Linked DNA regions of Homo sapiens. The protein of the gene in region 2 interacts with the protein of the main gene of each other region in a biochemical or structural test. Each region holds a gene or a part of one and is shown on either strand. Other genes may lie near its edges. The genes, in order: PAK4 and DGCR6L.

The links.
Region 1: the proteins of DGCR6L (region 2) and PAK4 form a complex in vitro, tested with the Homo sapiens proteins (one study listed by BioGRID).

What each region holds. Positions count from the first base shown.
Region 1 is NC_000019.10:39,163,604-39,167,409, forward strand, and holds part of PAK4 (serine/threonine-protein kinase PAK 4), read left to right. Parts: intron 1-3,703; exon of another isoform or gene 3,704-3,783; intron 3,784-3,806. UniProt on the Homo sapiens protein: Serine/threonine-protein kinase that plays a role in a variety of different signaling pathways including cytoskeleton regulation, cell adhesion turnover, cell migration, growth, proliferation or cell survival.
Region 2 is NC_000022.11:20,313,718-20,317,346, forward strand, and holds the end of DGCR6L (protein DGCR6L), read right to left. Parts: intron 2,503-3,629; coding exon 2,402-2,502; intron 1,760-2,401; coding exon 1,619-1,759; intron 1,108-1,618; coding exon 958-1,107; 3' UTR 521-957; downstream 1-520. UniProt on the Homo sapiens protein: May play a role in neural crest cell migration into the third and fourth pharyngeal pouches.

The DNA.
Region 1 (3,806 bases), on a different chromosome or scaffold from region 2:
CTGTCCCGCATGTTAAAGAATTCAAAAGATTTTTTAAAATTTGAAATAAACATTTTAGAGTAGGATACAAAATGCGCTTGCATTTCTGGGATCAAATACTGGACTTCAGAGGCATCTGTGCCCCGGCTGGGGCAGAAGGCTGCACCTTCCTGCTGCTCTGGGACTACTGCCCCCAGGTCCCAGCTGCTTATCTGAAAGATTTCCCGGGTGCTGCTGGGCCTTGTCCAAGGCCTCTGAGCAGGGGAATAATGCAGCGGACAGGGACGATCATTCCACGGAGTCCCTACTGTGTGCTGCCCTGGGCTACGAGGGGGTAAGACAGAGGACAGTCCCTGCCCTGTGAAGCTGACACATTCTAAGGGAGAGGCAGATGCTAAAGAATTACACATATGGCTGGGCCCGGTGGCTCACGCCTGTAATCCCAACACTTTGGGAGGCTGAGGCAGGTGGATCACCTGAGGTGAGGAGTTCAAGACCAGCCTGGCCAACATGGTAAAACCCCATCTCTACTAAGAATACATAAATTAGCCGGGTATGGTGGCGGACGCCTGTAATCCCAGCTTCTTGGGAGGCTGAGGCAGGAGAAGCACATGAACCCACTAGGCGGAGGTTGCAGTGAGCCAAGATCATGCCATTGCACTCCAGCCTGGGCAACAAGAGTGAAACTCTGTCTCAAAAAAAAAAAAAAAAAAAAAGAATTATACACACACACACAAGCACGCCATATATGTGGTAAGAGCCCTGAGGAAAGATAAAGCAGAGACAGGTGTAGAGGGCGACAGGACAGGAGCAGGGCTTGTGAGCACAGGCGGGCCTGGGAAGTCAGGGAAGGTGGGAGATCAGTGAGAGGAGAGTTCCAGGTGGGGCACTCGCCCATGCAAAGGCCCTGAGGTGGAACCATGTCTAGGATTTGAGGAACAGCAGGGGGACCTGTGTGGCCAGGGCACAGTGAGTACAGGGGTGCTTGGGAGAAGAGGAGGGCAGCATGGTGATGGGCGCATCCTGTGGGGACTCTCAGGCCACGAGGAGGCATTTTGGGGGCCAGCAAAGGGTTTAAGGCTGTGAACTCTGGAGTGGGCAGGACTCTGGAATGGGCAGGACTCTGGCTTCCAGGCCCAGCTCTGCTCGGTGAGCTTAGTGAGAGATTTTACCTTTGTGAGTCTCTGTTTCCACAGCTGCAAAATGGGGCTCAGAATGGCCACTCCACCGTGGTTGAGGGCGCCTGCGAGCTCAGCGTCAGCGTCTGCTCTGGGCCATGGGTCCCTTGTGGTGGTGGCGATGGTGGTGGGAGTACCGAGCTGAGCCTCAGGCCACATTTGGTGGGAGGGGTTGGTTTTAAGCATCTTTCCTGCTGCACAGGCCCATGGGAAAGGCTGGTGTACAGCCATTGGGGAGGTGGGGGCCCCGGGGCCCACTTTGTGCTTCCTCCCACTACCCGTGGGGTCCAGGACAGGTCACACAGGAGGGAGGGACCCTCACTCAGCAGAGACTAGGCAGGAGAGGAAAGGCAAGGTCTGGGTGTAGACAGAAAGAATGGGAACGGAGGGAGAGGGGAGGCCAGGACCAGCCTTGAGAGGATGATGATGATGATGATAATAATAATAATAATAATAATAAGGCCGGGCGCGGTGGCTCACGCCTGTAATCCCAGCATTTTGGAAGGCCGAGGCAGGTGGATCATGAGGTCAGGAGATCGAGACCATCCTGCCTAACACAGTGAAACCCCATCTCTACTAAAAATACAAAAAAAAAAAAAAAAAAATTAGCCGGGCATGGTGGTGGGCACCTATAGTCCCAGCTACTGGGGAGGCTGAGGCAGGAGAATGGCGCAAACCCGGGAGGCGGAGGTTGCAGTGAGCTGAGATTGCACCACTGCACTCCAGCCTGGGCGACAGAGCAAGACTCCCTCTCAAAATAAATAAATAAATAAATAAATAAATAAATAAATAAAATAATAATAGACAAAACCAACAGTGTCACCTCAGCCCTCCAGGGCAGCAGGACAGGCAGGTAAGAGCCCAGCCTTCAGTGCCTTCCATACACAACCGCCCAGGTTCAAATCCTGGCTGCTTCTCATGTCTGCCTCTCACTGGCTGCTTCTCCTGTCCATGCCCTGGACAAGGGCCTTCCCTTCTCTGGGCCTCAGTTTTCCCATTCATGAATTGGGATGAGGATGCTTGTGAGGATGGAACGGGATTAGACGCACAGCAGGGCCGGAACCCGCGAATCTCTGCAGACAGGCCTGGAGTCTGGTGTCCACTCTGCCACCCTAGCTGGGCCACCTGGGTTAATGAGGTCCCCCTCTGTGCCTTGTTTTCCCTGTCTGTAATCCGGGGCTTATTAATGGCCCCTCCCTCCAGGATCATATGTGGGACTCCGGGTAAAGTGCCTGGAAGAGGGCTGGTATACAGTAGGTACTCAGTAAGTGCTGGCTGCTATTGGAATGGTGACCGGCACTTACTGAGCACTTACTGTGTGTGTGATTTGCCTTGGTTCTGATCCCAACCACTGTCTCTGGGCCAGGCCCTCCGTGCCCTCTGTTCTGCGTAATTCCTTATAAAAACTCCAGGAAGGCCAGGCGCAGGGCTCACGCCTGTAATCCTAACACTTTGGGAAGCCAAGGCAGATCACTAGAGGTCAGACCAGCCTGGCCAACATGGTGAAACCCCATCTCTACTAAAAATACAAAAATTAGCTGGGCGTGGTGGCAGGCGCCTGTAATCCCAGCTACTTGGGAGGCTGAGGCAGGAGAATTGCTTGAAGCCGGGAGGCGGAGGTTGCAGTGAGCCAAGATCGCACCACTGCACTCCAGCCTGGGCGACAGAGCAAGACTCCGTTTAAAATAAATAAATAAATACTCCACGAAGCAGCTACTATTATCGCCGTCTTTGAACAGAGGAGGAAACTGAGGCACAGCGTGGCTGAGTTGCTCACCCAGGGCCACATATTGAGGTCCCCAGGTTGGGTTAGAGCTCCAGTTCACAGACACAGAAAGTGAGGTCATATAGGGCCAGTCGTGGCAGCCCTGCTGGGGTTTGGAGCCCTAGGCAGCCTGACTGCCAAGCTTGGAGCTGGCCTGGGAGCCCAGCCCCCACCCTTCCCTCCCTGCACCTGGGCAAGCCCAGCCTTTCTGCCTAGCTCTTCTCCCTCTTCCCAGGCCTGGCACGGCCTCTGTGGCCCCCATGAGGTCAGGAGCATCTGTTGGGAAGGGAGCGCCTGCTGGGGAAGCCGGCAGGGCTTGGAGCTGCACAGGACGGCCCAGGGTGGGGTCCCTGCCTGGTCATTATAAACATGTTCAGTTCCTCTGTTTGTCCTGCCCTCTGTGCAGTGCCCAGAGGGAAGGGGTGGCCCCAGGCAAATATCCGGAGGCGTGCCCCTTGCCCCCTTCCCTTGGGGGTTTATGGGTGGGAGGGCAGGAGGCCAGGCGTCGGAGGACATCCCCCAGACCCCATGCTGCCAGCTGGGCCAGCCGCCCGCCCTCCAGGCTGCTCTTGCCCCGTCCCCAGGTGTCCCCCACCTCAGGGTCTGCCCCGCTGTCCGCCCTCCGGGCTTAGTGAGGGGTCACATGGCTGATCCTCTTCCCGTGGCTCTGGGAACTGCCTAGTGCCCCGCAGTGGGGAGGGAGCGGGATGGGGCGGGGCGACAGGTTCACGATGAAGAGGCCTGGGCTGGGCATGGGGCCAAAGGGGGTGGAGGGACATCTGGGAGGACGGAGAGGCCGGAGGACATGGGACGCAGATCTGGAATGACAGCAGGCAGAGTGGGCAAATGGGGACTGTTGGGGTATGTGGATGACCCTGGGAGCT
Region 2 (3,629 bases):
GACCTGGCCACCCAGGGTGCTGGACACCCCCAACCCTGACTCCACAAGGACCCAGCAGGGCCCATGGGCCCAGGCCAGCACGGAGGGGACTCATGCAGATGCAGAAGCCAAGCTCCCCAGGTGGCCCTGGCATGCCTCCCCGCAGGGCTCCTCCTCAGGCCATTCCTGCCACCCTGAGTCCTCTATCCCAGTGACCTGCATCAGGCTCCTCCTAGTGGTTCCCACAGGACACTGACCAGGCTGCGGCAGGCGCATACTTGCACTCCGGGCCTTCTCCCATGCTCTCCAGCCCCCAGCCCCACAAAGCAGGCTGGATGTGGTCCTCATGCCCTGGGGCTTGGATGGGGGCCCCTGTACAGATGGCAGTGACAGCATCCTGGGACCAGGGCTGGGGCAGGAAAGGCTGGAGGGTCCCAGTCTCCAGGCAGGGGGAGGGGTGGTGGGCTGGGCACACAGCCCAGGAAGGGGCCCCCAGGTAGAGGCCTCTGCTGCAACAGAGGTGGGGGCCCTACCAGGGCCCCGGTTATGGCAGAACCTGCAGCTATCACACAAGCCACATTTGGGCCACACTGAGGCATCTTTATTTCTCTGGGTCACACAGAGCTTGGGCCTGGGAGCCTCTTCTGCATGGGGGCTGCAGCTGCCAAGGGAGCGGCTGAGACCAGAACAAGCGCTCGGGTGGGCCCCAGTGCAGGTTGGGATGTGCCCGGTGGAGTAAGGTGTGAGAACCCCCAGCCTCACTCTCTGCCTGGTCCTGAAGCAGACAGCAGCAGGCTGGCCCAGCCTCCCCTTTATGAGACTATCCTAGGGTTTGACAGCAAGTCCCAGATGAAGGGTGACAGGCAGCTGGGGTCCACCTGGTCTCTCCTCAGCAGGGGGAACCCCCTGCGGGCAGCTGGGAAGGCAGTGGCCAAAGGTCAAGAAGATGAACTCTGCCCAGACTTCTGCTGCCTGTGGCTATGGTGGGACAGGGCTGCCTTTCTGGTCACACTGGGCAGCAGGCGACTGCCAGGGACCTCCCAGTCCCAGGGCTGCATTCCCTGCCCGGCAGCCCCTCTGCTGCAGCTTTCGGATGAGTTCCAGCAGGTTCATCTGCAGCATCAGCTCCTGGGATACAGAGGGGCCCCATGAAGGCCAGAGTGACCCCCAGGCCCCTTTCATCCCGGCCCAAGGGTGCCAGGCAGTGAGCCCACGGGGGCGACCATCCTGTGAAGCCTGGTCATGGCCTGCCAGGACAGGGTGGAATCTGAGCTTCTGCCCCCAACAGGGCCACTCGGAATCTGAGCCTCTGCCCCCAGCAGGGCCACTCGGAATCTGAGCCTCTGCCCCCAGCAGGGCCACTCGGAATGGCATGCGGGAGGGGAGCAGAAGAGGGCCCTGTGTGGCACAGCAGGCCTGGAGAGGGTGGGCAGTGCCCATGGCTGGCTGGCTCACCCTCCTGTAGGGAATGGGCCTGGCCTCCGTGCTGGGAATGGCACAGAAATCCTTTCCAGAGCCTCAATCCTTCCACTTCACCCCCATACCCTGAGCCTGGCTCCCCAGGGACCAGCAGTAAAACCCCAGATGGAATGGGGCCCCGGGGCACTCGGGCTAGGGCAGAGCAGGCCCAGGCACTGACCTGTGGGTTGGTGGTCACGTAGAAGCCAGCCACCCCCGCCTTCTCCAGTGTGCTCTGCTGGTCAGCCACCTTCCGGTCCAGCTCCAGGATGATCTTCTGGTCCATCGCCCGCTGCTCCTCACGGATCCGGTGTTCCACGGCCTGCCATGGGGCCAGGGCGCGGAGGGGGAGAGGTGAGGGCAGCTCTGCCATCAGGGGGCGGGGAGGTGAGGGCAGCTCAAACACATGCTCCTGCTGCCGTCCCCAGTGGCAGCAGCTCTGACACCACCGGTGCATCCTCACCACACCCAGGCCTCTCCTCGGCCATGTGAACCCCTGAAGGGGGCCCCAAGGGGCTTCCACGAATGCCCTGGCTTGGGACTGCCTTAGGACCACACACACATCTCCACAGGCACACCCTGCCCCACGGCTTGTTGGTTACATGCCAGTCTCTGGTTGTCCCTGTGCTCCCTGGGAGAAGGATGGGCCCCTTCCTGGCCCCAACACCCTACCATTGCCTTTGTACCCCCCTGAGGCCACCTGCTCTGTGGAGGCCCAAACCCACGAGGAGCTGCTATCCAGGGGAGCACTGGTGGGTTCTCAACCTCCACCCAGCCCCAGCACACTTGGTATCCGCAAAGAGGAGCCACCTGGTGGGACTCACTAGGCCTCCAGTGTCCCACTCAGGCCCAGGACAGCCACCCATGCCTGAGCCCCCACACCCCTTCAGCTCAGCCCAGTCAGCAGAGCCAGGTGGTGCCCACAGGAGAGCTGGGCCGGCCACCCTGCCTGCGCCCCCAGTACCTCTAGTTCTCGCTGCTGAGCCGCCTGAACCACAGGCAGGTTGTGGGGCCGGCAGGCCTGCTGGGCTTCCTGGTGCTTCTGCCGCAGCGCCTGCCTGAGCACTGGGAGGGATGAGAGCCCGTCAGCAGGCGGTGGGACTCGGCAGCAGCCCTCACCCATGGGCACCTGCCTTGCCAGCCCAGCAGAGCAGCCAGGCCAAAGGGGTGTCTGCAGTGGGGAGGATGCCAGCCTCCTCCATCCTCCCACCCCACTGTCACCCAGGGCCGGGCCCTTATCTGGTGGCAAGTCTCCAGGGGACTCCAGAAGGTGCGGGGCACTGAAAGAGTGGGGTGGGGAAGACTGGCCAGGTGGGGCCAAAGCTGCAGCCCCAGACCCAGGGCAGCTGGAGGAGGCAGGCGGGAGGGAGGCTGCAGTCTGAGGGCTTCAGGGCCCCCATGGCCACAGGCCATGAGACATCTACTCAAGTGTCAGAGACCACCTCAGGCAAAGGCATGGGAAAGGAGCAGGAGGAGCGGGGTCGCTGACCCTGAGCGTGGGGCCTCTGCCTACCAGGGGTGTGGTCGGGCCCTCCACCCTCAGTGCTGCCCTTCAGGGTAGACAGCCCCTCCCTCATTTGCAGCTCCCAGCCCCCGCACAGCGCCAGAGGGAGAAGGGTGGGCAGACCTGGGAGGCCCAAGTTTGGGATGAGCTTGGGGTGCCATAAGCCTGTGTGGCTCTGAGGGGCTCACCCTCAGCCATCAAGTAAAGCTCCACGGTCCTTGCTAAACTGTGCACAAACACAGATGTGTGCAAACTGTCTGGTCTGAAGGGAATGTACAGAGGAAGCGATCATGGGACATAAACCACCATGAAACAGAACATGCAGCACCCCACAGCTGGCGCCAGTGACCAGTAAGTGCCAAATGGCTACAGCTCCCCAGGAGGGAGGGGTCCCTGGCCAAAAGAAAAGGTGAAACCCAACACTCTGTTCCTGGGAAGAGCCCTGATGTTGCAGCTCTTCTCTGGTGGCCAGTCCCCAGGGAACTCCAGGGCCCCTGAGGCTCCCCTGCAGGTAGCCTGGCTCCCGCTGTGCCTACAGCCTTCCCCGATCTCCTGTCTCTTCACATTCTGTACACACCTCGACGATGGTATTTACCAAAAGCCCCCCTCAAGACAGCTCCATAACACAGGGAAGCAGGGAAATGTCATCTCCTTCACTCTACTGATCAAACATTGCTACAAGTGCCAG